4 linked regions of the Homo sapiens genome follow. The protein of the gene in region 3 interacts with the protein of the main gene of each other region in a biochemical or structural test. Each region holds a gene or a part of one and is shown on either strand. Other genes may lie near its edges.

Region 1 (7,854 bases), about 38 Mb from region 3:
CAGCCTGGGTGACAGAGCGAGACTCTGTCTCAAAAAAAAAAAAAGAAAAAAAAACTGTGTCTCAAAAAAAAAAAAAAAGCGTGTAGCACCTTTCCTTTCTCTATCTTCCTCCTGGTCCACCACGTAAGACATGCCTGTTTCCCCTTTGCTTTCCGTCATGATTGTAAGTTTCCTGAGGCTTCCCCAGCCATCCTTCCTGTACAGGCTATGGAGCTGTGAGCCAATTAAACCTCTTTTCTTTATAAAATACCCAGTCTCAGGTGGTTCTGTATAGCAATGCGAGAACAGAATAACACAGCCATTAATTCAGTAACTGCAAAGTCCCGCCTCAGCTCTGGAAAAGGATTTGGAAAAAGGAACAGAGATAGAGGGAGACAGATTTCTAATGTAAAAGTCATCTCCCTTTCAATATTCATTACCTTAAAGCAGGGACTGATGGTTGAGGGCCAGCGCACAGGGTCCTTGAGAATGAGGCTGACCAGCTGAAAGATGCTTGTAGCATAGAAGGGAGGGGTGCCTACTGCCAGTTCATATAGTATGCAGCCAACAGACCAGAGGTCCGCTGTGTGGTCGTATGGTCGCTCCTCCACCAGCTCTGGAGACATATAGAGTGGTGTGCCTTTGATGGATGTCAGCACCATTGTATTGGTGCTCATAGCCCGGGCAAATCTGCAGAAGATAATGGGATGGAAATGGAAAGGGAAAAGATATTCTAAACCTGGTCACTACTACCTAACATAGAGATATCCCAAACCGGAGCAGAGGGAGCACCTTTGATTAGGTTCCAGAAGACCCAGCAGCAGTCCCAGCCTCTAGCTCCGGTTCTAAAATGAGGCCCAAATAAGTCAAGAGTATGGTCTAAGATTCCCTGTGGGGCCAGGCTCAGTGGCTCATGCCTGTAATCCCAGCACTTTGGGAGGCCGAGGTGGGCAGATCACCTGAGGTCAGGAGTTCGAGACCAGCCTGACCAACATGGAGAAACCCCATCTCTACTAAAAATATAAAATTAGCCAGGCATGGTGGCACATGCCTGTAATCCCAGCTACTCTGGAGGCTGAGGCAGTAGAATTGCTTGAATCCGGGAGGCAGAGGTTGTGGTGAGTGGAGATCGCACCATTGCACTTCAGCCTGGGTAACAAGAGTGAAACTCCATCTCAAAAAAAAAAAAAAAAAAAAAGATTCCGTGTGGAACTGGAAGCTTAGATGGATGCTCAGAATCTTTACCCAAAGTCACAGAGCTTGATGCCACCACCCTTGGCGAGGAGGATGTTCTGAGGCTTCATATCTCGGTGTAGGATGCGGTGGGAATGCAGATAGTACAGGGCTGACACCAACTGGGCAGCAATGGCCTGAACCTAGAAATTAAAGAGGTGGAAGAAAGAAAAAAAAGGTTAGAAACAGCAGCTGGCTGACAAGCCCAAAAATTTCTCTTAATATTACTGCTAATCTTTTCTTCCTTCCCTTTCTTGCAGAGCTTCACACTATTCTTTCTTAGTTATTGTTCCCCTTGTTTAATCACTCTTTCATTTGCTCATTCATTCATTCAAGAAAAATTTATTGAATCTCATTTACTATCTGCTTGACCATGGGCAAACTAAGGTGACAATCTATATAATAACACCATCTACATGGAGGATTATTGTGAGGACTGAGTTAAAGCATGCAAAATAATACTCAGAATGGTGCCTGGCACATAGTAAATATTCAATACACATTACCTGTTATTAAATAAGACAAAATGCCTTTTTTCAAGAAAAGTAGTCAGACAAACAAACAAGACAGATAAAACAAATATGGTGGTCGGGCGTGGTGGCTCACACCTGTAATACCAGCACTTTGGGAGGCTGAGGCGGGCAGATCACCTGAGGCCAGCAGTTCGAGACCAGCCTGGCCAGCATGGTGAAACCCCATCTCTACTAAAAGTACAAAATTAGCTAGGCATGGTGGCGCATGCTATAATCCTGGTTACTGGGGAGGCTGAGGCACGAGAATTGCTTGAACCTGGAAGGCGGAGTTTGCTGTGAGCCAAGATTGTGCCACTGCACTCCAGCCTGGGCAACAAAGCGAGACTCTGTCTCAAAAAATAAAATTCAATTAAAAATAAAATAATTTCAAAAATATGATTACTTACAAATAGTGGTGAGTGCTCAGAAGGAAAGAGAATGCTGCAATAATGAATCCCAGGGGGGGCCTACTTGCTTGGGTACAGACAAACGCCTAGAATAAATGTGGCTGGAGGATATGTGCAACAAAATCCCACTGCTAACCACTACGTCCTGGTGCCAAATCCTGACTCCCCACAACCTTTATTCTTACTGCCCTCTTTCTGGTACCATTACACTGGCCCTTCTTCCCTAAAGGTATCTAATAACAATAATGTTAATAATAGCTAACTATTCAAACACATTACATGACTTAACACTCTTCATCATAGACTTATCAGGCAAACATGATTATTATCTCCATTTTACAAATTAGGAAACTAAGCACAAAGAAATTAAAGTAACTTGTCCAATGAGACCCAGCTAGGAAGGAGCAGAGCCAAGCTTCCTGCTCAGATATTTTGACTCCAACGTTTACATAATTTACTCCCACACTACACTGCCTCTATATACCTAGACTCTTATATTCTTCTCAGAAGTCTTTGAAATGGAGACTCTCAGTGTCCTTAGCTTGCTCTACCAGTTCTCTAACCTGGAGAGAGGTCGGAGGTGGGGAGAAGTTGAAGGCAGAAAGCATACCTGGTCTTCAGGAAGTTTTCCGTCATCTTCTAGGATCTGAAAGAGCTCTCCCTCAGCATAGTCTGTCACCACCACCACCTACAGAGAGAAGGCAGTGGCACTGATGGCTCCAGATTCATGCATTCTGAGGTTGGGAAATTCCTGGAACCCTTGTGCTTGGGGAGACAGGGCCCAAAACTGTCAAAGCACACCTCTTTATCAGTTTCAAAGCTGTCAAGCATATGCACAATGTTGGGATGCCGCAGACCCCGCATTATTTCAATCTCTCGTTGCAAATTCCTCAGCTCCTTCTCTGAGCGCCCCAATTTTGGGATGAACTTCAGGGCCACGACCTGTCAGTGGTAAGGTGAAAAGTTAACGCCTAATCACACTACTGAAAAGATCTAGAATTTCAGCCTTAATCTCAGAGCTCCAGAAGTCAGATTTTAGAGTGTTTGAGTAACTCTTATTATTTCTGTTAGTCTCCCGCTTCCATTTTCTCCATGGTACCCTGGCCTTATCCAGGCTTTCCCCATTCCTCATCCCAGGAGGAAACAGCATCTGCAAAACATTTCCCCTTCTGGAAGAAGTGTTCTGATTTGACCAGCACTCAAGATGAGATTTAGGAGAAAGGAAAGGAAAAAAAAAATGAAGAGGAAATAATAGAGTTCAAGTGGTTTACCTCTTATTACATGGTGTGCTAGAGACTAATAATATTTGTTGTTTACTAACAGCCAGGCACTGTACTAAGTGATTTAATGTGAAAACATATTTAATCCTCAAACTCCATCAATCAGTTGCTGTTCTTATCCCCATTCTAGAGATAAGGAAATTGAGACATAGGGAAGTTAAGTAATTTGTCCATAATTCTAGGGCTAGAAAGCGGTGGAGATGGAATTTGCACCCAAATAATCCAACTTCAAAGCTTATACTCCATAAGAAGTATGAGGGAGTCAGTACCTTAGGAATACAAACTGGTATAAATACATTCCTTCTAGATCCATTTTCCACTGGAGTTGGGGGTACCAAATCCCACCCAAAAGGTATCCCTCTTTGTGCAACACCTGAGCACTGTATTTTCTTCGACCCTTGTACACCCTCCCAAAAGAGCCTTCTCCAATCATCTCCAACACGTGGTACTTTTCCATGACAGAGGTTTCAGGATCTCTTAGAAGGAAGAAAGTAGAGACGGTGAAGAGCTATAGATCCAGGGACAGTTCCACAACATCTGGGACGCCTAGTTGGGGCACGGGAAAGGAAAAATGTTAGCCACCTTGCCTTTTCCTCTTTTTCACAATAAAGCCTCAAAAAACATGGGAGGGTGGAATGCATGCAAAGATGATGCGCTCTTGGAACAAACAGAGCTTCTCTTTGTAGTTCCTCCCCACTTTCATCCTCCTGTCCCCAACCCGGCCCCATGCCCAACTAACACCTGGTTCCCCTTCTCCCTCACCCAGCCTGGCTCACTCGACCCTACTCTTTCAACCTAGCCTCGCCCAACCAACCCTGCTCCTTTGAGTCTCCCCCAAGTTCCTGCCACTCCCAGACTCCTCAGCACCCGCTCTCAGACCCCCTGGCCCGTGCGCTTCGCAGGCCAGAGCCCCTCTCTCACCCCCAGCCTAGGAGCTCCAAGCTCCTCAGGCCAAGGGACGGATTCCCTGGCGTTTAGCCCCATCTCTTCTGGCTGCCTGCATACGTTGCCTGACTTATAATTCTTCTCCACCCGCCTCTCCCTCCGGTCTCTTTCGGCTCCCTTTCTTACAATTTTACTCGCTAGAACTGGTGAGAAGTTCAGAGGACAAAGGCGCTCAGAGGTGTGGAATGGACGGCGGACCACACATGGGCACTTCCTGGGACACATCCGAACTGCCTCAGGGCCATCAGGCCCGGCTAAGGACCCGGAGTCTGCGGTTGCCTAGAAACGACGCTAGCTGCCCACCCCTCTTAGTTTTCCGCCTCCGACTTCCCTAAGGGCATTTCCGGTTCCGGCTGCGGGCCGGTGAAGATATGGCGGCGTCTGCGTCTGCAGCTGCAGGGGAGGAGGACTGGTAACTTTGGGGGCATGGGCTTTGGCTGACAGCCTGGATCTAGTCCAGAGGCCTAGCAGCTGTCGCAGACGGTCCGTACGGCGGGCGTGTGGGGTGGAGCGAGGGATGAGGGATGGCAGAGATGCTGACATCTCTGGGAAAGCTGGACTGGGGAACGGGAGGGTGGAGGGGCGCTGATCTGAGTGAGAGGAGAACGGGTCGGCGCCCGCCAGGCCAGTTCAGGCCTCGCCGCATCCGGTTCGATCCCTTTTCCTCCAGCTTCACGCCATCCCTTTCTCTCCTCCTCAAATGAATTTTCTCAGGGGCTTTGGGGGATGCCTGCCCATCAGACCTCCCCATCTCCCTTTCTCCTCTCAGAACCAGTGCCCTCCAGTTCCGGCCCCCTTTCCCCTTGGATCAGCCTTTTTCCGCCGACGCTTTCCTCAGCCTTCTCTCTCTCACACAGCACTAGTGAGGACTATTGTATGAATAAAGCTTTACACTTCATATAAAGTCCCTCTAGTCCTTCTCTCAAGCATTCTTAACCAAAGACTAGAACATGGAAGGACTCTGGGATTTGGAAGTAGGATCAATGTGGGTTAACTCCACATTTTATTAGCTGTGTGATGCTGAACAGGCCATCTAGCTTCTGTGAGTCAGTGTCCTCAGCTGTAAAAAAAAAAAGTGGGTGTGGCATTTACCTCAGAATAGTTGAGAGGATCACGACGGATTTGTAATATACTTAAGTCTGTTTTTTGTTTTGTTTTGTTTTGTTTTTTGAGACAGAGTCTCACTCTCGCCCACGCTGGAGTGCGGTGGTGCGATTACGGCTCACTGCAGCCTCGACCTCCCCAGGCTCAGGTGATCCTTCTGCCTCAGCCTTCCGAGTAGCTGAGACTACAGGTGTGTGCCACCATGCCTGGCTAATTTTTGTATTTTTTGTAGAGACGGAGTTTTGCCATGTTGGCCAGACTGGTCTTGAACCCCTGGGTTCAAGTGATCCTCCCACCTCAGCCTCCCAAGGTGCTGGAATTACAGGCGTGAGCCACCACACCCGGCCTCCTTTTCATTAATAACTGAGGTGCAGGCACCTGGGAAGACTAGATGAGTCCCAAAGAAGTAAAGTGATTTGCCAAAAGATAGAAAATTATGAATAGAAATCCATATCTGTCTGACTCCACACCTTAGATTCTTTGTACTAGGACATTCTTCAGTCCCCACTCCCCCAATTTTTTTTTTTTTTTTTTTTTTTTTTGAGACGGAGTCTTGCTCTGTCGCCCAGGCTGGAGTGCAGTGGCGCAATCTCGGTTCACTGCAAGCTCCGCCTCCCGGGTTCATGCCATTCTCCTGCCTCAGCCTCCCGAGTAGCTGGGACTACAGGCGCCCGCCACCACACCCAGCTAATTTTTTGTGATTTTTAGTAGAGACGGGGTTTCACCCTGTTAGCCAGGATGGTCTCTATCTCCTGACTTCATGATCCACCCGCCTCAGCCTCCCAAAGTGCTGGGATTACAGGCCTGAGCCACCGCGCCCGGCCCCCCTCCCCCATTTTGTTGTCACCACCTTACCACCATCCCATCCAGGACCCATATAACTAGGGTGGGCGAAGTATTGAAGGGCCACTTGACTGAGGCTACACCTCAATGTTACATTGGTTCAGGGAGCCCAGCTAGTACTGGCCGTTATTAAGAGTATCTAGACTACTGGTTTTCAAAGTGTTCAGGGAAACTTCTTTTTTTTTTTTTTTTTTAAGAGACAGAGTCTTACTTTGTCACCCAGGCTGGAGTACAGTGGCAAGATCATGGCTCACTACAGCCTCGACCTCCTGGGCTCCCGTGATTCTTCTGCCTCAGTCTCCCAAGTAGCTGGGACCACCGTGTCCAGTTAATTTTTTATTTTTTGTAGAGATAGTGTCTCGCTTTGTTGCCCAGGCTGGTCTCGAACTCCTGGCCTCAAGTGATCCTCCCACCTCAGCCTCCCAAAGCGCTGGGATAACTTACAGTTTACCTGTTCAGGGGAACTTTTAAGATTCAGGGGAGACACCTTGAGCCATGGAGACAGCAACAATGAGTGCAGCAGCCTGTAGTACTGTGAGACTCCCACTCCCATGTCAGCCAGAACTACACTGTTATCTGTGAGGTGTGAAGCTTTATATTTTATATTTTGAAGTTTCTGCCTAAGACTTAACAACACTGACATAGGTCGTGCTGGGGCAGCCTTACTCTTAGAATGAAGAGGGAGCAGTGTGAGAAAGCAAAGTGTGCATTTTTCCATGTATCACTTGGTAGAGCTGTAGACACAAACTGATCACTCAGCTTCAATTTCATTACAACTGCTGTTTCTATGCTTAAGTATGTGTGTCCCTTGATTTACATCAGAACCATGGATCCTAACCTCAACAGGCTGATCTAGATCAACCAGACAGCCAGGTCATAAATACATCCAGAGTACTCTATTACCTCCTTCCTTCCCTCTTTCCTTCTAAGGGAGAAGGTTATATACAGACAGGAAAAAAAGAGGACGTAGACTAGCTACGATAGCCCAGATACTATTAGGTACTTTATGTAAACAAATCACCTTTTATCCTCACAATAACCCTAGAGAGTAGGTGTTATTATCTATATGTGACAGACAGGATAACTTAAGCTTACAGAGAGGTCACGTCCCAGATTGCATAGCTTGTAAGTGATTGGTACCTGTTAACTAACTCCGAGGCTGCTGGCTCTTCCATTACAACACAGCCTTTATACCACCCTAAATATGTTGTGTTGAGGTTGCTATCTCCTTTAAGAAGGCTTAGGGTGACTGGTGTTAAAACTGTATGTAGACAGTAGCCAAGGCACTGGGATCCACACTGGACAGTGACGTAGGGAAAGGTTGGAGTAATATTGGTAACGTTAATGCTAATGAATGAGTGCCATATCTCTAGACCAGAGATTCAGCCACTAAGGGGAATGAAACTTAAACAGGGAGTCAGGAAACCTGGCTCTGGGCCTAGTTCTACCTATGTTAAGCCTTGGTTAGTCATTTTACTTCTCTAGAATCCACTTCTTCATCTGTTGGCAGAAATGATGCCTAAAATTCTGATTTCCATGCCTTCTATTTGG
Region 2 (7,369 bases), on a different chromosome or scaffold from region 3:
TTAACCATCCCTAGAGTTTTATATTTCCAAAAATATGCCAAAAGGAAAACTATGACTGTATGATTATTTTAGCGAGAGTCATATTTGAGATGGTGTTCTGAGCCATAGTTCTCTAACATCTCCGTCTACATATAACACAAAACTTTTATAAATTATTTTAACAAAGATTAAAATATACTGCAGGGCAAATAATATTCTCTAAAACACAGGAACTGCTTTTCGTAAAGAAGACTGACTAGATGCATCTTTCTTTGAAGCTGTTCTAGTCCTCCTCTAGTTAACTTAGCTTTATGTAGAATTTCTACTGTATTTAATTTCTATTGAAGCCCTTCTGTATTTTAAAATGTAATATACTTTGTACCATTTATAAAAATTGTGTGATGAATGAATCACATGTTCGTTGTTATAAGTGTTAACCTTTTTTTGACAATTTTGTGGGAAAGACATTCTCCACTGAATTTTAACTTTCCTTGAGACTTTCAAGAATGCAGGTCTCGTTTGATGAAAAAACCGACTTCATAACCCAATGTTACTAGTTAGCGACATTGTGCTGAATTTCTCCTTGAACTTTTTAACTTTATATGTAAAATAACTTTGATCTTGGTCATTTGAAAGATCATTTCCAGGTCTAAAATTCCATGATTTTGTATTTAATTCTTCCTGAGAACAGAAGAGGGGAAAGCAAGAGAGGACGGTTTTGTGTCTTTATGAACTTTGTTACTTAAGTACTCCATTGGAGACATAATTTTTCTAATTAGTGGATCTTTTTCCACTGGAAAGTGTGATAGCTCATTGCTAATTTTTCATTCATAGTTCATTGCTTCCATTTGACCTAAGATTGGCCATTTGTTGGTGTGAAAATATTTTCTTTTCAGAAATAGTTTACTAGTGATTGAAGTACTTTTCTTATTTTTGCTTCCTATTATAAAATGGCGTGGGGGGAAGGGGGAAGGATGGAGATGGGAGGAGAGGGTAAAAGAATAGTACTCTGATTTTTTAAGAATTAGTATCTACTATCTTGGATATTTGAAAAAAAATTGGTTGAAACTATGTTTAAGTTTTATGTGTGCCTTGTAAGATTGTTGTAAAATTTTTTGTGAGCACTTTGAGATTTTTGCTGGGGGAGGGGTGTTTTGTGAAAGTGATGGTTATTATTTATATTATTTATTCCTGTTCAGTAGCACGGAATGATCTCCAAACATTCCTAGGAGAGTGTCTGTTTGCATGATATGTCTAAAAATTTTCAGGAAAATGGAATCTTTTTTTAAAGTTCAGGTATGACAAAGTATAGAATTTATTCATTTAACATATTCACATTTAGTTTATGTTTCTGATATGACAGAAAAATGAAAAGTGTTTGAGTTCAGCCTCTTCATTTACTCCATTTACATATAAAAGATCTTGAAAAGGTAGTTGTTACTTCGTTGTCAGAGAAAAACACTTGCCCTTTTTCCTGGGATGTAACTATCTTACATGTTTACATAAGAAATAATAAACTGGAGGTGGGAATGGAGAACAATGTGTTTTGTCTTCATCTTTGAATTTTAAAGGATACAATTTAAAGGATACAATTTCTCCTGACTATACATTAATCATTCATCTAGCAAATACTTCCTGAGTCCTTACAATGAAATATAAGTTAGGTATACAGACAAAAATTCCTGCTCTTGTGAAACATCTTAGTGAAGGGAGACAAACAGTAAACAAGTAAGTAAAATCCATGTATGTCAAATTTTGAGAAGGAATTTGGAGAAAAATCAGGAATAGGGAGTACCAGAGAAGGGGGATGGAATTGCAATTTTAAATATGGTGGTCAGCGCCGGGCGCCGAGGCTCAGGCCTGTAATCCTAACACTTAGGGAGGCCGAGGCTGGCAGATCACTTGAGGTCAGGAGTTTGAGACAAGCCTGGCCAACCTGATGAAAACCCTTCACTAAAAATACAAAAATTAGCCGGGCATGGTAGCGCTTGCCTGTAATCCCAGCTACTCGGGAGTCTGAGACAGGAGAATCCGTTGAACCTGGGAGGCAGAGGTTGCAGTAAGCCAATATCGCACCGCTGCAGTCAGCCTAACTGAGGGAGCAAGACCCCATCTCAAAAATAAATATGGTGACCAGGACACCTTTGAAAAATCTCGGATTATCAGAAATATATATTCTTCTGTCTAGTGAAATGTAAATATATCCAGTAGAATAGAAAAATTTGGCCTGGACTGGTGGCTCACGCCTGCAATCCCAGCACTTTTGGAGGCCGAGGCAGGCGGGTCTTCTGAGGTCAGGAGTTCAAGACCAGCCTGGCCAACATGGTGAAAACCCGTCTCTACAAAAATACAAAAAAGAAATTTAGCCGGGCATGATGACGGGTGCCTGTAATTCCAGCTACTGGGGAGGCTAAGGCAGGAGAATTCCTTGAACCCAGGAGGTGGAGGTTGCAGTGAGCTGAGATCACACCATTGCACTCCAGCCTGTGTGACAGAGTGAGACTCCGTCTCAAAAAAAAAAATATGTACATATATGTATATATAATGTGTATGTTTATATGTGTATATATACTTATATGTATCTATATATGTGTATATATATTTATATGTATGTATATATGTATATATGTGCATATATGTATATATGTGTGTATATATATATATACACAGTAGGGTGGAAAACAAATATGTACATGTAAATTACCTATCACTGTCCAGTTGAAATTACTGAAACAATTATTGGTTGTTAACAGTTCTCTAGGCCTGGCATATGTTTCATAAAGAGAAGAGAACGAAAAAGATAATGTGTGGAAGAAACGTCTTCGATGTGGCCAATGAATCTTTTTTCAAAAACACTGATTTTTGCCTGTCATTCAGACAAATATAATAGGTAATAACTATATATTTTGTTAAAACTGTAGAAGCAACCTTTCCATATTCTAATTTATCGTAGGTTTACTTCGATATTTTTGTTGTTGGGCATCTGATTTCACATTGGAAAGTGCCTTGAGTTTAATTACAAGTCATGGTCATTTTTTTTCTTCTTTTTTTTGTTGAGACGGAGTCTGGCACTGCCCCCCCGCCTGGCTGTAGTGCAATGGCGCGGTCTCGGCTCACTGCAACCTCCGTCTCCCGGGTTCAAGTGATTCTCCTGCCTCAGCCCCCCGAGTAGCTGGGATTACAGGTGCCCGCCACCACACCCGGCTAATTTTTGTATTTTTAGTAGAGCCAGGGTTTCACTATGTTGGCCAGACTGGTCTCTAACTTCTGACCTGGCGGTCCACCCGCTTCGGCCTCCCAAAGTGCTGGTATTACAGGCATCAGCCACCGCGCCCGGCGTCATGGTCATTTTCTAGCCTACATTCTTTAGTTTCTCATCAGTAACAAGGGGTACATTGTATCTGTCTTCTAGGATCACTTTGCTAATTAAATGAAATGTAAATAAAACTAAAATATTTAAAATTAAATATCACCTAACACAGGACCTGCCTGACACATACTAAGTAGTTTATAAATGTTAATTCTGATATCCCTATTCCAAGTCTGTTTCATCTATAAATTATAAACTGTAAGAATAATTCTTACCTTAGTTCGCTGTGTAAAAAGCTTCAACAAATATTTGAGATATGATGCCAGAATTTGTGCTTAAATTTTTTATTTTTGCCAGCTTTTGAGGAGCTCAGAGCTTTCTTCCCCCCCTCCCCCCCCCACTTTGGACTCTTTGTCTAGAAACAGAGTTTTCTCTTTAATAAAGAAGTGAGATGTGGAAGTGCCTGCCAAATACATGTTTTCTTCTTGTTTTTGTAATGGGGAGATTACTTGACATCTTTGTAAAGGGATTGAGGGATCCTGTCGGCATGTCATCACAGGAGTGTGAAGAAGAATGTGACACAGATGTATCAGATTCTGCTCAATGGATTCCACGCTTTTCACGAAGGGAGTTAAGACACTCGCTCAAACCAGCGTCTAGGAAGCCGGCTCAAGGCGCAGATGAATGTGCAGGGAATTTCCCATCAATCCCTTCGGCTTGCCTAGTCCTTCTCACAGTACCTCCCACAGTGCTCCGGGGCTCCCTTGTCACGTGATCGGGGTGGATCCGCTGAGGCAGAGGGAAGTTGATTCGCAGTTTGGGTGGCTGGGGCTACTACGCTTTCCTTCCAACTCCCGACTCCCGGGCTTGCGTAATCTCGCGTTAAGTGGGGAGTAACTTCTCGCGAGAGCTAGATCGGGATCCCTCCAGGTCCGCCTCCGTGGTGAGGAGGAGGAGGAGGAGGAGGCGGAGGTGGAGGGAGGAGGAGGAGGCCCCGTCGCGGCCTTCGCCGCCGCCAACGGGGCTGTCCCTGTAGCTCCCGATGGAGTTTGAGGTCGTGAAACCTCCGCCGAGCTCTGCCCCGGCGAGACGAGGCGCCTCCGTCGCCAAGCCGCGCCGTCGCGGGGCTCCCGGGAGCGGCCCTTAGCGACCCCGCCCGGGCCCCCTCAGGTAGGGCGGGGGCGGGCACGATGCGGCTCGGGCCCCAGCCCGGGTGCCTGGTCCCCGGCGGTCGGGCGGGAGACCAGTCTCAGCCCTGGGGCCTGTGCGCTGTCGCCCCTGGTGCCTCGAGGGTTGGGAACTGAGGGCCGCACCTGACACTCGGATGGAACCCGGGCCCTGCGGAGGCCCCTCTCTCTGGTAGGGCTTTTTCGATGCGGAGCGACCGGCTCAAATGGCCACCTTCCTTCGACACTGGCCGAGCGGACGCCTCTGACCCCTAACGAACCCACCCAAGCAAAGGCCCGGCTTCACTCTCCCTTTTCTACACCAGTTAGTAAGGGGGTTTGGAAGAGGTCCTCGAAACCAAGTCTTCTCCTAGCTTTTCAGCTTTCTGCCCTGGGGCTTCCCGAGACCCTAGCGTAGAGGGTGGTGGAGGCGATCTGAGTGGTAAATAGGAACCCCGGCCAAACAATGCCCTGGGAGGGCTTAACCTCCCAGGATGGGGACGGCCGGACCTGAGTGGTTGCACAGGGGTTGTGGCTAGGAGCAATGGCATGAAACACAGCCAGGAAATTCTGCTATGGCTTTCTTCTTTCCCTCTCTCATTTTTCCTTTTTGGTGTAGCCTCTTGAGGAGACTCTTCCACCATCTTAGAAGAATGGTAGAAAGCATCTTTGTTTCCCAGAGAAGCAGCTGTACTTTTTTCTATCCTTAGCTTTCAGGATGGGAGAAGATGAGGGTAGCTGTCATTTCCATCCTTCAAATCCCAAGGCAGCCGTTTAAGATACCGGCAGATAAATCCTTCACACCAAAATTGACTCAAGTAATCACTGGCATAAAGTAAATCTAATCCAGTGATTTATTTATATTTTCATAACCCTTGGGTTCCCTTTTTAATTCCTCCTCTCCCCTTACCCACGGCCTTCCTTTTTTTCATTTCTACTCTCCCCCTACCCATTGTGGGTGGGTGAGTTTGTATCCCAAATAAAGTGCTTTAAGTAATCTTTTTTCCAATTTTGTATTGGCCAAACTTTTAAGTTCCAGTAGGAACTTTTGGTTAACCTGAGAAAGCTAACGTTGCTATACCACAGTGGTATAAAGTCACTCAAAAGCAAAGAAACAAATGTTAGCCAGTGCAGCCTTTTAATGGTTAAACATACAAACTTAGTTAAAAGCTTTTTACGATATTAAGAATATTAATAGATTCTCCTTTTTAAAAAACCTTTTAGCTGTCTAAAAAGCTATACCACTGTTGTAGCTTCACATGCCTTTCTTACGTTGTTTACTTCCACGTTCAATTTTTGAAGAAATAGAGGTCGTTACATCCTGTTAAAGACTGCTTTTCAATATTGACATTTTCGTTGATTTGGAGATTAATGTTTTCAAAATTTTAGAGTTTGGAAAATTGCTAGGAGGACAGAATGTGAAACATATTCTAGTTACGTTTAGAAAAAGCAGATGTTATAATTCAAACAGGCACTTGTTCTATGAGGATTTAATTACACTCGTGTTCATTAGTGGATCCTTTGAGTTACCCCTGATCTGTTATTTCTGTTGTGGTAACCTGACATGTAAGAAGACTTACGTCCTTTGTTCATATATTTTTGTTAAATCATACTCTGCTTTTGTAATTTGCTGTCTTCCACTTTGAAAAAACCAAAAATTTGCATTTTGGCAAAGCATTCTTCTTTACACTCAGGATTTTATATTCAAAAGTTGAACTTCTACATTGTTTGCAATAGCTAAGAACGCTAAAAAAAACTTCATAACAAGGTTTTAGTAACTACTTACTGTTTAGTTTGTACCGTGTTGAAGTTTCACTTTTTAGTGATGGAAAAAGGAAGCATGGGTAAAATAAAGCTAGCTGAAAATTAAAAATAAGTTCATGTTTTGCATCCAGTCTCATGAATGTTATGATCAGCGTCTCTAATTTTACTAAAGCTTTAAGTGTAAGTGTGAGTTTTACCTCAATTTCCTGATAAAAGTTCTAAGTATTACTTTATAATTTAAATATTCTAGAGTTGCACTGTCCAGTACTAGCCAGTGGCCACATGTGACAGTTGAAGATTTGAAATGTGGCTTCTGTGAATTGAGATGTGCTTTAGGTGTAAAATACCAGATTTCAAAGACTTAGTACCAAGATTTTTTTTAATATCTCAGTAATTTTAATATTGACAACATGTTGAAATGATATTTTGTATAAACTGGGATAAATAAAATATATTACTAAAAATAATTTTAGCTATTTTAACTTTTTTTTTTTTTTTTTTGAGACAGTCTCTCTCTATCACCCATGCTGGAGTGCAGTGGCACCATTCGGGTTCACTGCAACCTCTGCTTCCAGGTTCAAGCAATTCTCATGCCTCAGACTCCTGAGTAGTTGGGATTACAGGAAGGCACCACTACACCAGGCTAATTTTTGTATTTTTAGTAGAGATGGGGTTTTGCCATGTTGACCAGGCTGGTCTGGAACTCATGACCTCAAGTGATCCACCCACCTCCCGCCTCCGCCTCCCAAAGTGCTGGGATTACAGGCGTGAGCCACCACGCCTAGCCTCTTTTAACCTTTTTTAATGTGACTACCAGAAAATTAAAAATTACTCGGATTATAATGGCTCACATATTTCTATCGGATATTACTGTTGTAGATCAGCATTACTCTTCCAAGAAATATGTTAGTGGAATAAAAGTAGATGTATAAAAACCCAAAACTTCCAGATAGATTATCCTGTTACAATCAGAATAATTAAAGAGCTAAGGACTTTGGTAATATGAAGGATGAAGTTATCCATTGGCTATGATTTGATAGGCAGAAGTAAGTTCTATCTCAAAGAAAGTATTTTTCTCGTCATCACTAATATTAGTTATACTTGTTAAAATAGAAAGTTGGCTGGGCGCGGTGGCTCACGCCTGTAATCC
Region 3 (7,448 bases):
TGGTCAATTCGAAGGCACTCTGGTTTATGTAGTTTTAAAATGTCTAACCATATATCATACTTTTCAGTATTTTTTACTGCAGATATACAGTACCTTATTTAATATTATAGAAGAAATAGTTTAAATAAATTTTGTGGACCAGGATTTAAACCACCTTAGTTCTATGGTCCAAATGTGTTTCAAGTTCCAAAATACCTGATTTCAGAACAAATTTTTGGAACATACTCGTTTATAAAAGTTAGTAACTCTTTTTATAAACCATTACTTACAGAAACATTGACCTCTTATTTTAATATATAAATATTTGCTTGTTCTAAAATTTATTTGTATTTTTTAAATTAATAGCTTTTTCTGGGCAGTTTTAGGTTCATAGCAAAATTGAGTGAAAACCCCTTGTATCTCTGCCCCTGCACAGACACACAACCACCCCTGCTATTATTGTCCCACACTACAGTGGTATAGTTGTTACATTCCAATCGATAAACCTACATTAACACATCATTATCATGCAAAGTCCCTAGTTTTCATATGGGTTCACTCTTGATGTTGTACATTTTATGGATTTTTACACATATATAGTGACATATCCGCCATTCATACCATACAGAAAAGTTCACTCCCTTACAGATCCTCCGTGCTGTGCCTCTTCATCCCTTCCACCCCACTAACCCCTGGCAACCACTGATATTTTTACTGTTTCTGTAGTTTTGCCTCCAGAATGTCATATAGATGGAGTCATACAGTATGTAGCCTTTTCATATTGGGTTCTCCCACTTACTAATATGCATTTAAGTTTCATCCATATCTTTTCATGGCTTGATAGCTCATTTCTTTTTAGCACCGAATAATATTTCGTTGTCTGGAGGTACCACAGTTTATATATCCATTCACCTACTGAAGTAACATCTTGATCACCTTCAAGATTTGGCAGTTATGAATCAAGCTGCTATTCACATCTGCATGCAGAATTTTGTGTGGACATAAGTTTTCAGTTCATTTGAGTAAATACCCAGGAGTGTGATTACTGGATCTTATGGTAAGATATGTTTATGTTTGTAACAAGATTGCCAAACTGTCTTCCAAAGTGGACATCCAGATGCATAAAAATGAATCTAGATATTTTGCATTTCCTGTACCATTTTGTATTCTCCACTAGCAATGGATGAGAGTTCCTGTTACTCCACATTTTCTTCAGCATTTGTTGTTGGTGTTTTGGATTTGGGCCATTCTAATAGGTGTGTAGTGGCATGCTTTTCTTGTTTTAACTTGAAATTCCCTAATGACATGAGTTTGAACAGTTTTTCATACGCTTACTTGCCATCTGTTTATCTTTGGTGTGAGGTATCTGTTCAGGTATTTCACCCATTTTATAATCAGGTTGTTCATTTTCTTTAGTTTTAATGGTTCATCGTATATTTTTGATAACAGTTCTTTATCAGGTACATCTTTTGCAAATATTTTCTCCAAGACTGTTGCCTGCCTTGTTCTCTTGACATTGTCTTGCAGAGCAAAAAAAATCTAGGCTGCAGTTACAGATTTGGAAGTTAAGAGCATATTGGTGGTATTGGGAGCCGTAAAACTGCATAAGATAACCAAAACAGTATATGTAGGTAGAAAAGAGAAGAGTGTAAGGTCTTAGCTCTGGAGGACTGGTGATATTTAAAGCTTAGGGTGATAAGGAATAGGAATAGAGAGTGAGAACGAGGGGCCAGGAAATGTAGGAAAGCTAACAAAGTATGTTATTCTAGGAATGAAAGAGAAAGTGTATCAAGGAGGATGTGATTGGCTGTGTCAAATGTTGCTGGACCAGTCAAATAATATGAAGATTGAGAAATGATCATTGGGTGTAGTGATGAGGTCATTGGTGACTTTGGATAAGAGCTGTTTCAGTGGAGTAATGGGAGGAAATGCCTGTTGGGAATGAGTTCAAGTAACAACAGAGGAGAGAAACTGAAGATAGCAGATGTAGATAAGATTTCCAAGGAGTTTTGCTGTCAAGGAAAGATGATTGAGATGGAAACTCGAAGGGAGAGAGAAATAGAGATTTTAAAAAATAATAATAAAGTTGGGAGAAAGGGCATTGTTGGATTCTTATTGGCATCACTCACCAGAGAAGGAAAAATGGATGATGATTCAAGACAGTGGAAGAGACAGAGAGTGTCGGTCAGTTGCTAGCCTCTAATATGATTTGTTTAAATTACAGTGGACTCAGCCCTGCAACTGCTCATGTCCCTTCCTGACCCCTTCCCATCTTGCCGTATGTTTTGACTAACAGATGGTACATTTATGAGAATGAAAAGAGGCCCCTAATCCAGACAGGTAGCCAACACTACCTGGATTTTAGGACTGGATTTTAGCCTTCACTTGTCCTAAACTAGGTGTCTTTGGGTACAGCAAAGTAATCATACTACCATAGCTTCTCTGCTTAGTCTACTCCAAGACAATAGGAAAAGTTATTTACTATCCTGCAATAGTTAAATGTACACTTTGTCCTATAGTTAAATGTACACTTTGTCCGATGGCAAATAGCATGATAAGTGGGAAGAGAGCACATTTAAGAACTAAGAATTTGGTGTGGGAATCCAAGCTCTTCTATCAACTGGCAGTAAAATATATTTGAGGAGAGTTTAAGGCGTATGAGTCGTCTTACCAACAAGTAATTATGAGTTTAGATTTTATTTGAACTATCTCTCTTGTTTGTATTTTATAAAGTAATGGTGTGTTAAGCGCAGTGCACCAAAATGTAACTAAGACTTAGTAGCACCTAGGACTCAGATCTTGGTTTTTCTTACAACATTCGCACTGAAAGGAACCCTGGCTCTTTGGAAAAATGTTTGATTCCAAGGATGGGATTCCTTATGCCAAAGGAAGGAAATGCTTAAAAAAAAAAAAAAAAAAGATGCTAACATGTTGCAAGGATATAGGAGTCATTTTGAAAGGGTTCCCCATCAGCCAAATCTGCAATAATTTGGGTATCAAAATAATTAAAGTCAGTAATGACTTATAAAGCATTGGGAAAAAATGAGACCATACCAGTAATACTTCTGTACATACGTACAGGCAGGAGAAGAGGCTCAAGGGGTAACTGTTAAGTGTAGAGAAAGTTCTAGAATTGGAAAATCATGATTTTATTGCTGTAACAGAATACCTGAGACTGAGTAGGTTATAAGGAAAAGAGGTTTATTTGGTTCACCTGATGGGCATCTGCATCTGTTGAGGGCCTCAGGCTGCTTCAACTCACAGTGGAAAGGCAGGCATCAAGTGCAAAGAGATCACAAAGCAAGAGGAAGCAAGAGAGAGAAACCAAGGAAAGCCACTCTTTTTAACAATGAGTTCTCTTGGGAACTAATTCATTCTTGCTAGAGTGAGGACTCACCCCTGAGGGAGGGCATTAATTTATTCATGAGGGATCTACCCCTCTGACCCAGACACTTCCCAACATTGCCGCGTTTGGGGGTCAGATTTCAACTTGAGTTTTAGCAGGGACAGATCAAACCATAGCAATCACAAATGGATGCTAAATCTTGGGAAGAAATTTTGATAAGAAGCAGGATATTTGCCTGGTCTTGAAGTGTCTGTCCAAATATTGCTTATTGGTTGCAGGGAAAAGATAGTAACTAAGCAGTAGGAAAATTGGATAGCAGTTTGTCTGGATGATGAAACTTAACATCACCAATGAGGTACAGGTAGGTGCTGTGTGCCTCCAAATGTGATACCATGAGAAGGACACATACTATTTCAGCCAGACACCTACTATTTCAGCCAGAAATGCGTTACATGAATCAAATCATGAGGAAACATGGCAAGCTCAAAATGATGAGCATTTTTTAAAAAAGAAGACTAGATTCTGCAAAAAACGTTAATGTTATAAAAGTTAAAGAAAGGCGGAAAGGACCCATATTAAAGGAGAATAAAGACACAGGAAATAACGTGGTTCCAAGACTGGGTCCTGCATCGGAGAAAAATTAATTTTTTAAAAGGGTATTACCGAATCAGTTGACAACATTATAATACAAATTGTACTTTAAAGAATTGTATTAATGTATTTACTGAAATTGTAACTGTATTGTAATTTATAGGAGATTGTTTTTAGGAAATGCACACTGACATGTTTATGGGGAAAAGGCCGTGTGCAACTTTCAGGTGACTCAGAAAAAAGTATGTCTCTATGCATGCTTGCAGGTTTAGAGGGGTGTGTGTTTCGGGAGAGAGAGGAGCAAATGGGGCAGAGCAGAATGCTAATGGAGACTGGGTAAAGTTATACCAATTTTCTTTGTACTTTTCTTGCATTTCCTCTGTAAGTTTGTAATATTTCCAAGTAAGTTCATACACACATGCACATGCAAACACATTGGGGCTTATTTCTTTTATACTTATTTTACTTCTTATTGCTCTAGATTGCTAATTTACCTTTAACACTTCCCTGGTTTTAGGATATTAACATTCATTGCTAATATATGTACATACTGATTTTTAATTTCTTTTAAATAGTGCTGGGCCTAAAGGAGATAACATTTATGAATGGAGATCAACTATACTTGGTCCACCGGGTTCTGTATATGAAGGTGGTGTGTTTTTTCTGGATATCACATTTTCATCAGATTATCCATTTAAGCCACCAAAGGTAAGAAGCTTGAAGTGCATTCTTTAGTATTTAATCCTTCTCCTCTAAAATCGGTTATTCTAGAACTTAAATGTGTATTGATGCAGTTATTTTGATTTCATTGCTTTTCATGGATTGATATGGAAATTTTCGCATAATCAAGAATTTTAAAACAGTAATTGACTCCTTTCACAAATAATTTGTAATAAACAGAAAGAGTTTAATTCTTAATTGTAAATAAAACTATACCTTGCACATCAATAAAGCAGATAAATTTTATGCTTATGAGGGAGAAGATCCTATGAACCTTCATTAATACCTTAATTAATAATACCTTAATTAACTATTAAGGTATTAATGAAGGTATTAGGATAAAAAGTAAAACTGTTTGACAGCTTCCAGAAATAAGGGTTTAATAATGTGAATTTTGTGCTGAATACCTTTATAGATAAGCAAAAACTTCATAGCCAAGAAGAGGGAAACTAATAATATTTAGTAAACTCATTTTGTACCTTCTGTGGGTATGATGTAGTAGTGGAAGCAGAATGCCTGAGTTTTGTTGGCTCTGAGTTCATTTGAAGTATGAATTAGATGGATAACAGAGAACGGGGTGAGTTGTGCCTTCTAATGACCATCAACTTTGCAAAGCTTAAATATAACAATTACTTGAATGGCTCCCTCCGCTAACTTCTGTTTCTACAATGGTCAAGTCAGCAGGTAAAAACCACTGGAATTAAGCATGAGCATTATTATGCTGTTGTTACAGAGATGTCTGACATAGCAGGGGAAAGTGTATTTTCAAGTCCATAGCCCTTAACTATGGTGAAATGTTTTTCTTTTCCAACATGGTGACTTTTGTTCTCTGTACTTTTAAAAATTTATGTTGCAGTCTATACCATTTAAAATTTATGTAGCCTGTGTGTATATGTATATGTGCACATAAACGGATTTATTTTGTGAATAAAAGAGGGTTATTTCTCAGTAACTTATTGTCTAACAAGGTAACGAGTGCCATCTAGTGGTATTTACCCCAAACCGCAGACACCATTTACTCTCAATTACAGCTGTTAGTGTTTAAAGTGCTTTACCGTGTGGTCCCATCAGCATGTAAGATCTTGAAATTATTTTTGCATATGGGGAAGATTAATTGAAGAAAAAGACTCTTAAGTTTTCCTGGACACCTTTTAATGAAAAACAGAAATTGGCTAATATAAGAATTTCACACTATATAGTACTGTATATGATTTGCCGTAATTTTGATGAATATAATGATTATAAATTTAGCATGTTGGTTTTTTGCTGAAATTGCAATATATCATCTAATTCTTTAGTGTTCACTCTGTTGCTGAGATATACAGTATTAACCATTAAGATCTATAGTTGGACAAATGAAAAATAAGATTTCTGGTATAATCTTGGTATTTGGAACAATTATTTCTCTGCAATGCTAAATCTTTTTGAAGTTTGGAAAAGTTGAGCTTCTTGAAGGATAATAAATATTTAATAGAAATCTGCTCATGAATGCTATTCTGTTCACTAGTTATAGCTGAAAATATATTTGTAAATCACATATGTATTGAGCAGTAACGTCAGTGATCTGAACATAAATTATTTCTATATTCTAGAGCAGCATTAATGGAAATATAGTAAAATCTACATGTATAATTTTAAATTTTCTAATAGCCACATAAAACATAAAACAATTTTAATACTATATTAGTTAACCCAACATATTAAAAATATTGTCATTTCAACATGTAATCCGTGTAAGAGTATTGTTAATGAAATCTTACACATTTTCTTTTTGGTACTAACTCTTTGAAATCTGGTATTTATTTTACACTTCTAGTTCGTCTCAATTCACCTTGCCACAATTTAAGAGCTGTATATGCACATGTAACTAGTATATGCTGTATTGGTCAGAGCAGTTCTAGAGGGGCATACTCTCCTCCTCCCCCACTAAACTAGTGTGTTGGTCCCCTACCCCCTCCCTGTCATGCATTCTTTTCAGGAAGACACTTTTGAGAGCATTTAATGTTTTCCTCCCAGATTCAACTTTTGCGCTCACAGTACACTGCTAGTTTTCAAATGATCAGAAATTTTTTTTTTTCTCGGCAACTCCAATTATGAATTAGCTATCCAATTAGTGTTTGTGATTGTTTTGAGACTTGGCAGTGTTTGTTCTTATGATTTATCTTCTTTTCTCACACATTTCAGGGATATATTAGTTTCCTTTATCCAGTAGCTAAAAACCTTGTTTATTTTATTTTAATATTTTAGCCTAACAAGACAGTGAACCAGCTGTAGAAATAAAAGGCTAAGAAACAGAAAGGCAGGTAGTGTGAATGATTTTACCAACCGTCTTCTAAATCCTCCAGTATTTTCTAACGTTTGGTAAGAAATTAGCTGAATTGATACTGATCTTTTCTAGTAAGAAACTGATGTAACTTTTATGTTTTAAAAAAAAATCTTCATCAGTTCCTCTTACCTTCGGCACCAAAACATTTCTTTTCTTCCTCACTTTCTGTCTTTCTGTATGTATGTGTACACACACAGTTGTATATGCTGTGGATGTGTATGCAAACAGACGTACCCACACACATAGATGGAATTACTGTATCAGTTATTTAAGTATAACTGATCAGTTCCTCACTTTAGTTCTTTCTATACAGGGTAAAAACAAAAAATTTTTTTCAACTGAGTCAAAAGCATTTAATTTTGTTATTAAACCTAATCTAAGTTTAGCTCCAGTCAAATAATTTAGTATCATCTATGATATATTACCCTTCATTTTTTTTTAGTGTTTTAATTGGTAATACAGCATTCATTTTCCTTCTGTTTTTAA
Region 4 (7,448 bases), on a different chromosome or scaffold from region 3:
TTCACAAGATGAGTCTCAGCCGTCTTCCTTTTTCAACTTTCTCCTACCAGTGAAAAAATAAGCCAGGGCAGTTCTGATGACTTCACATTTCATTGGTATTTGTTTTTCATGGGCAGTTTCATGCTGTCACGTTGCCCTTCAGAGAATCAGGGAATGCCTTCGTAGAATATTAACGACAAATTGTTGAATTTGCACAGCTTGTTTTGTCTCCCTGAATTAGTATGTGTAAGAAAAACCAATGGAAGATTTTAGCAGGCTCTGAAAGTAGAATGCCCGCTGAAGCAAACGGCAGGGTTGTTCTTCCAAGGCGTATTAAATATGGGTACACTTAGTTTGCAGACTTGGTGTGCTGCAGAATATCACATATGAAGATATTTTGACCGCTATTTAGAAGAGTGACCTCATAAATCTTTTAGCAAAGTAGACACACATACCTACCACATTTCTTAAAAGTAGATTCGTATTTTGATTTGAGATTGTTGAAAAGCATGGTATGTTTGGAGTGCACTTAGTTATGTCCCATCTCATAAAGACTGTTGAGCTCTCTGCACTGCTGATGATGAAGCATTGCATGAACCCAGAAAACGGGGATGCCAAAGCACAGGGCTTAGGTGCTGTTCCTTGCGTCATCAGCAGAGGTCTGTCCACTTTGTAGAAGGTAAGGGGTTGAGATGTGGGCTTTGCTTGTGTGAATGTATGTGCTGTTTAATTTTTTCTGTGTGTTTCGGGCGGAGGTTTCTCTGGTGAGTTATAATTCATATTTACCCTGATTTAAGTCATGTCACTTTAGGTAGCCAGATTCAAAACCATCAGATGAAGGACTTTTGGTGTTAGAGGGATTAGCAGTTTAACAAAACTTCTGATTCATGGCCCAAGATCAGATTTGGTTTGGAATCAGAACACTTTGGACTAGTTTCTGCATCTGGCTTGAGTCCTTGTGGATTTCTTGTTTTATTTCTTTATTTTTGGCAATCTGTAGTGCATTTTGGCATAGTTTACTTATGAATGTTACCGCTAACTTTCTGAAATCTTTTATTCCATTTTAGAAAGGTATCATTTATTGAAAAGATTTTTCTACTGAACAAAATACTGGGATTGAATGGCAGCTTCTTATCACATTAGATATGACATTAAGTAATTTCGTTAGTAGTTAAAATGAAGCAAATGGCATAGAAATGAAGGCCAGGCTGACATAGGATAAATGGCACCTTCTCTCCTTATCCTGTACAAACACGGATAGTTGGCTACTTTTGAATGCCTCTTCTATACCAATGGTAAAAATCCGGCTTAATTGGGGCCACATTCTAGCCTAGTCACAATCAGTGGCTTGCATTATGTCCTTTGAGATGTGGCAGATCTGCTTATAGGTGCCAGTCACCACGGCTCCCTGCTGGCTTGGGGGTCTTTCTACTCATTTACATATAATTATCTACTTCTTAATCAACCATTAAGGTTAACTTTTGGCATGGATCCTGTATGCTTTTCAGTTTAAGATGCTGTCACTTTTAAGATGCGCCATGAGAGCAAAGTGCTAAGCCTTGTGCACATACTATGTCATTTAGTTCTCATGAGAACTGTGTGAGGTAGGCTGTGATTTACAGATGAGGAATGAAAGCTCAAAGAGGTTACGTGACCTGCATAAGGACACAAAACAAGTTAAGTTATGGAGCCAGCTATTTTGAATAGAAAGGCCTAGTTTTTAACATGCTGAATATCCTCCCCTTCTGACAAATGCCTTGAAAGGTCTTACTATCTAGATTATTTAAGATAATGTAAGAGAAATAAACACCACTGGTTGCAAACTGATGGCTGCTGGGCCCGATTTGACCAGGAACCCTGCTTAATGTGGTCTCTAGAGTGTTTTAAAGCTTGGAAATTTCATGAAAATGGTAAAAATCTGGCTTAATTGGGGCCACATTCTAACCTAGTTACAGTCAGTGGCTGGCATTATGTCCTTTGAGATGTGGCAGCTAGTTGTGCTATGGTTGCAGTCACCACTACTTTCTGTTGTCTTAGGGGTCTTTCTACTTGTTTACATATAATTATCCACTTCATAACAAACCTTTAAGGCTAACCTTTGGCGTGGATGCCATATTTCTTTCACTTTAGTGTGCTGTCACTTTTAAGATATGCCATTATTTCATGTACCACGAAGAAAAAATTGCTGTCAAGTTATGACATACTGTCCATCTTATGAAGCATCCTTATTTCAGAGAAGTTGAAATATGAGAAAAAGGATATTTTAGAATTGATGAATTACAGTGACTAGAAACCTGGGAAAACTCCATGCCATCAGTTTCAATATCCCCAATCATTCAGTACTTTTAAGTCAACGAGTAGTCAGATTTCTGCTTTTCTGTGTTTGAGGAAAGTGCTAGAAAAAGAGAAGTGCTCTTAAATAGGCATTAGCACAGAAGGAACTGGGGGCCTAGATCATAGCCAACTGGATGGCCGTCTGTAAGTGATTAAGAATAGTTGTTAGTTTTTAAAAAGTGGCCTGTGTGTATTTTCAAGAGATTACTTGGGAAACCCTATGTGCCATCTTTGCAGCTGTGCAAAACGGTGAGGACAAGATTGCTTTCAAAAATTGTGGTTTAGATTTTGCTTGGATCTCAAGGTGAATGCTGACAGGCCGTTTTCTGAAGAGAGAGAAGGCTTGCCCAGTCATGCCAAGTCCAAGTGCCTGTGTCGGGCCTAGATGCTGGATGGTAGACTGTATACCCAGGACATATAGGTAATGTTTGAGAAACAAATGTTAAAAGGACCTAGTTTTCATGGTGACATTTAAAATCAGTTTTTAAAATTCATGAATATAACATGTTGTTTTAAAATTTGATTATAGGGACCGGGTGCAGTGATCACTCCTGTAATCCTAGCATTTTGGGAGGCCGAGGCAGGAGAATCACTTGAGTTCAGGAGTTTGAGGCCAGGCTGGGCAACGTGGTGAAACCCCGTCTCTACAAAAAATAGAAAAGTTAGCCAAACATGGCGGCACGTGCCTGTAGTCCCAGCTACTTGGGAGGCTGAGGTGGAAGGATCACTTAAACCTGGAGGCAGAGGTTGCAGTGAGCCAAGATCATGCCACTGCACTCTAGCCTGGGCGACAGAGTGAGACCCTGTCTCCAAAAAAAAAAAAAAAAAAAAAAAGACTAATGAATAGAATTTATTTTCTTCAATGATGTAGTGTCTGTGGAATTTGTAGACATTGACATTTGAATTTTCATTATATTTAGTTTTATTAAATCAGAATGTTATGATTGTTTATTTCATTATTGAACATCAGTTTCCTTAATTTAAGGAATAAAAATAATTTTGCTCAGGCCAGACATAGTGGCTCACATCTGTAATCCCAGCACGTTGGAGGCCAAGGCTGGTGGATCACTTGAGGTCAGGAGTTTGAGACCAGCCCAGCCAACATGGTGAAACCCTGTCTCTACAAAATAAATAAATAAATAAATGAAAAAAAAATCAGCTGGGTGTGGTGGTGGACACCTGTAATCCCAGCTACTCTGGAGGCTGAGGCAGGAGAATAGCTTGAACCCTGAAGGCAGAGATTGCAGTGAGCCGAGATCGCACCACTGCACTCCAGACTGGGTGACAGAGTGAGACTCTGTCACAATAATAACAGGCTGGGGCAGTGGCTCATGCCCGTAATCCCAGCACTTTGGGAGGCCGAGGCTGGAGGATCACCTGAGGTCAGGAGTTTGAGACCAGCCTGGCCAACATGGTGAAACTCCGTCTTTACTAAAAATACAAAAATTAGCTGGGCTTGGTGGCAGGCAACTGTAATCCCAGTTACTCGGGAGGCTGAGGCAGGAGAATTGCTTGAACCTGGGAGGCAGAGGTTGCAGTGAGACAAGTTCGGGCCATTGTGCTCCAGCCTGGGCAACAAGAGCAAAACTAAAAATAAAAAATAAAAAAAGAATAGTAATAGTTTTGCTTAAAGGGTGAGGACAGTGACAAATGGTGATCCTCAGATGACTGTAGTTTCTTTACCATTACAGAATGCAATTCAAATGAAAACCATTGCATGGTACTCAGGCATTTCTTCAATGCAGTGTGTGCCCACATCACCAGGAAGCTTACTTGGGAAAGTTTGTTTTGGGATTCTGGAGTACCTCAATATATCTGGTATATTTTCCCAAGAAAAGTGAATAATCTTGGGGGGCCGAGGTGGACAGATTGCTTGAGCCCAGGAGTTTGACACCAGCCTGGGCAATGTGGTGAAACCCCACCTCTACAAAAAATACAAAAACTTAGTTGCGTGTTGTGGCACGCACCTGTGGTCCTGGCTGCTGGGGAGGCTGAGGTGGGAGGATGGCTTGAGCCTGGGAGGTTGAGGCTGCAGTGAGCCATGATCATGCCACTGCACTCCAGCCTGGGTGACAGAGCAAGACACTGTCTCAGAAAACAAAGGCAAACAAACAAAGATCACCCCAAAGAAGAACTCCCAACATATTAAAAGTCATTGAGTTTTGTACCCTTCAAATGGATGAATTGTGTTGTGTATGAATTACATCTGAATAAAACTGTTTAAAAATATTAAGAATGATTGAGTGTGACATTATTGCAGCAGTACATTGGAGTTTCTGCTAAATTACTTTTGCATTCATTTCAAAAGGAAGCAACTATGCCCATTGCTAATTTAATAACCTGTTTGCTTGTGCGGTGTTTAAAATGGCATCATGAAAACATGGCAATGTGTGATAGATTAAGAGCCAATTAAATTTTTTATTTTGAGTTACAAGATCTGCATTAAACAGATTTTATTGTTGCCCTTGAATTTCCAGTCTTAGATGAGTAGCAGCAGTGAAAAAAAGAGATCCTAACTTAAGAGTTTTCAAGCTTTTTGATGTTGCAGGTATTTGAATAAGTGGGTCTGTCTTACTGAAATATTTGTTAATTAGCGATAAAGCAAACTATATGTTGATCTTTTGGTAGTCCATGCTAAGGAGGATTAGAATAATATATAAATAATATAATGGTAATAAGTATCAGGGCAGGAGGATTAAAGAAGGGTGGAAGAAGTGTGACAAAATGTTACTTTCTGTTTTTACATTGTTTCTCTTCCAGGTCACAACTGTATTTCAAATGTATTTCATTTTCAGACTATAGGTGGCAATGTTTGTGCTGTTCACTGTTTAATGTTACTGTTGGCTCGGGTGTTGCTTGTTGCTGGAATATGGAAATGATAGCATAATTTAGAGTTGAGAATAAAAAAAACTAGATTTAGAAAACTAGAAACTAGATTTAGATTTAGTAGAGACTTTCTAAATAGTCCTAGTTCTGCTGTGTGGACCCTTCTGTAACTTTCTGTTACTCTGAGAAGGAGCTGATAATTATCACAACTACTGGTGTTTGATTAGCAGAGACATTCTTGATTCCTGATGCAAGACCGTGGCTGAAGTTGTAGCAGGGCGTTTGGTGGTTGGCGATGTAAAGATCTGGGCCTCTTGTTTCATGAATAATAGAATCTCACTATGATTGTAATATTTTGTTTTGAACTGGAGTGCTGATTATTGTAATCCCTTTAGGTGAGAAAAGCCTTATTATATAAGTGTATCTGGGGTAACTAGCTTAAATTTGACACTCCAGTCAACTTTTTGTCCCTGACTTCAGTCCTGCATTGATTCAAAACGCACCAAGTTAAATGTCAAGGCTCTCAGATTCCCTTGCTGTCATCAAATTCAGTGTTTGGTGACTTCTTGGCAGGCAGACATCTACCAAGAGATTTTGTATTCTTTTTATACCTCCTATTCACCAAAAGAAAAGGGCCATTCAAAAGTGAGTTTTTCTTTTTTTTTTTTTTTAAGTTTAAAAAGCTATGATGTGGCCACCCATGGTGGCTCATGCCTATAATCCTAGCACTTTGGGAGGCCAGGGCAGGCAGATCACTTCAGGCCAGGAGTTCAAGACCAGCCTGACCAACATGGCAAAACCCCGTTTCTACTAAAAATACAAAAATTAGCTGGGCGTCGTGGCGTGCCCCTGTAATCCCAGCTACTTGGGAGGCTGAAGCAGGAGAATCGCTTGAACCTGGGAGATGGAGGTTGTGGTGAGCTGAGATTGCAACTCTGCACTCCACCCTGGGTGACAGAGTGAGACTTTGTCTCAAAAAAAAGCTGTGATGTGAAACCTGTTCTGTGAAGGTGGAACTTGGAAAGGCTTGTAAGGATGGTGGTCCCATGAAGAGGATGAACAAACCAAGGGAACTGTCCTCTTGCTGGTTTGGGTGATGTCCCATCACCTGTCACTTTGTTTGTTTGGGCTGCAGTGGACCAATGGTTTCCCAGGCACACTGAAGTGACATGTAGATGGATTGCTTGAGTGGCTCCGGCATGTTTCCATCTCCTGTCTACCAGGCAGAGACCGTGTTCCCTGTTTTGAGGGGATCCAGAAGTGCAGTGACAAGGGCCTGATTTGCATCTCCAGCTCCTGGTCTTGCCTGTGTTAACAATTTTTTTTTTTTCTTTCCAGATGGAGTCTCACTCTGTCGCCCAGGCTGGAGTGCAGTGGTGCAATCTCGGCTCACTGCAAGCTCTGCCTCCCGGGTTCACGCCATTCGCCTGCCTCAGCCTCCCAAGTAGCTGGGACTACAGGTGCCCACCACCACGCCCGGCTAATTTTTTTGTATTTTTAGTAGAGACGGGGTTTCACCATGTTAGGCAGGATGGTCTCGAACTCCTGACCTTGTGATCCACCTGCCTCGGCCTCCCAAAGTGCTGGGATTACAGGCATGAGCCACCGTGCCCGGCCAACAATTTTTACATTCTAATTAATTTCCAGTTTCCAACCTGACTCAAGGTTTAGCTCTTCGTCTCTTGGGTGCAGTTTTGGATCATGTCTTATAATGTATATTTAAAAGTGTGTTGTAAAGCTGGAATTCCCATTGTGGGTAAATGCTGAGATTGTTGTAATACTGAGAAGTGCACTTGGGAACCATGGCCAACACTGCCCTAGCTGACCGGAGGTTGCACTGAGTTGTCCCCTTTGAACATCTGTTATGAATGAATGTTGGAAAATGCAAAGCCAATCATTTCTTTTACCTGACCTATGTGATGTTAAGTTTTAGTTTTATGTTTTGGCAAGTGAGTGTTGGATGTCACTAATGTGAGGAGGCCGGTGAGGGCAGACTTTGGGTCAGAGGTAATGTAGGAGATGAAGACCCTTTCTATTAATTTTTCTTGTTTAATTGAAGATGTTCGTGTTGAATGGGTTTTATTTACATGTATAAGTTCTTTTTTTCTTAATGCTGGAAGTTACTTTGGTTTTTCAGAAAATGCAAGTAACCCTAATCTATTTAGAGAATTACTTTGCTTAGTAAGCACTCAGTACTATTTAGTAATGGGGAAAAAATGTGTTTGTGTCCCACAGCGTGACAGGCTCCACAAACTTACTTACGAATCTCCTAACTACCCTGAGAACCTGAAGAATGGGACTTTGTGGAG

The links.
Region 1: the proteins of UBE2E3 (region 3) and RNF25 form a complex in vitro, tested with the Homo sapiens proteins (2 studies listed by BioGRID, with this or other methods).
Region 2: the proteins of UBE2E3 (region 3) and RC3H2 form a complex in vitro, tested with the Homo sapiens proteins (one study listed by BioGRID).
Region 4: the proteins of UBE2E3 (region 3) and NEDD4L form a complex in vitro, tested with the Homo sapiens proteins (3 studies listed by BioGRID).

What each region holds. Positions count from the first base shown.
Region 1 is NC_000002.12:218,668,844-218,676,697, reverse strand, and holds the start of RNF25 (E3 ubiquitin-protein ligase RNF25), read left to right. Parts: upstream 1-4,695; 5' UTR 4,696-4,727; coding exon 4,728-4,768; exon of another isoform or gene 4,769-4,839; intron 4,840-7,854. Other genes in the region: STK36 (serine/threonine-protein kinase 36), read right to left, coding at 420-669, 1,225-1,355, 2,742-2,819, 2,933-3,073, 3,785-3,868. UniProt on the Homo sapiens protein: E3 ubiquitin-protein ligase that plays a key role in the RNF14-RNF25 translation quality control pathway, a pathway that takes place when a ribosome has stalled during translation, and which promotes ubiquitination and degradation of translation factors on stalled ribosomes.
Region 2 is NC_000009.12:122,902,200-122,909,568, reverse strand, and holds the start of RC3H2 (roquin-2), read left to right. Parts: upstream 1-4,209; 5' UTR 4,210-4,459; intron 4,460-7,369. UniProt on the Homo sapiens protein: Post-transcriptional repressor of mRNAs containing a conserved stem loop motif, called constitutive decay element (CDE), which is often located in the 3'-UTR, as in HMGXB3, ICOS, IER3, NFKBID, NFKBIZ, PPP1R10, TNF and in many more mRNAs.
Region 3 is NC_000002.12:181,053,202-181,060,649, forward strand, and holds part of UBE2E3 (ubiquitin-conjugating enzyme E2 E3), read left to right. Parts: intron 1-4,491; coding exon 4,492-4,624; intron 4,625-7,448. UniProt on the Homo sapiens protein: Accepts ubiquitin from the E1 complex and catalyzes its covalent attachment to other proteins. In vitro catalyzes 'Lys-11'- and 'Lys-48'-, as well as 'Lys-63'-linked polyubiquitination.
Region 4 is NC_000018.10:58,046,853-58,054,300, forward strand, and holds part of NEDD4L (E3 ubiquitin-protein ligase NEDD4-like), read left to right. Parts: intron 1-373; exon of another isoform or gene 374-658; intron 659-7,448. UniProt on the Homo sapiens protein: E3 ubiquitin-protein ligase that mediates the polyubiquitination of lysine and cysteine residues on target proteins and is thereby implicated in the regulation of various signaling pathways including autophagy, innate immunity or DNA repair.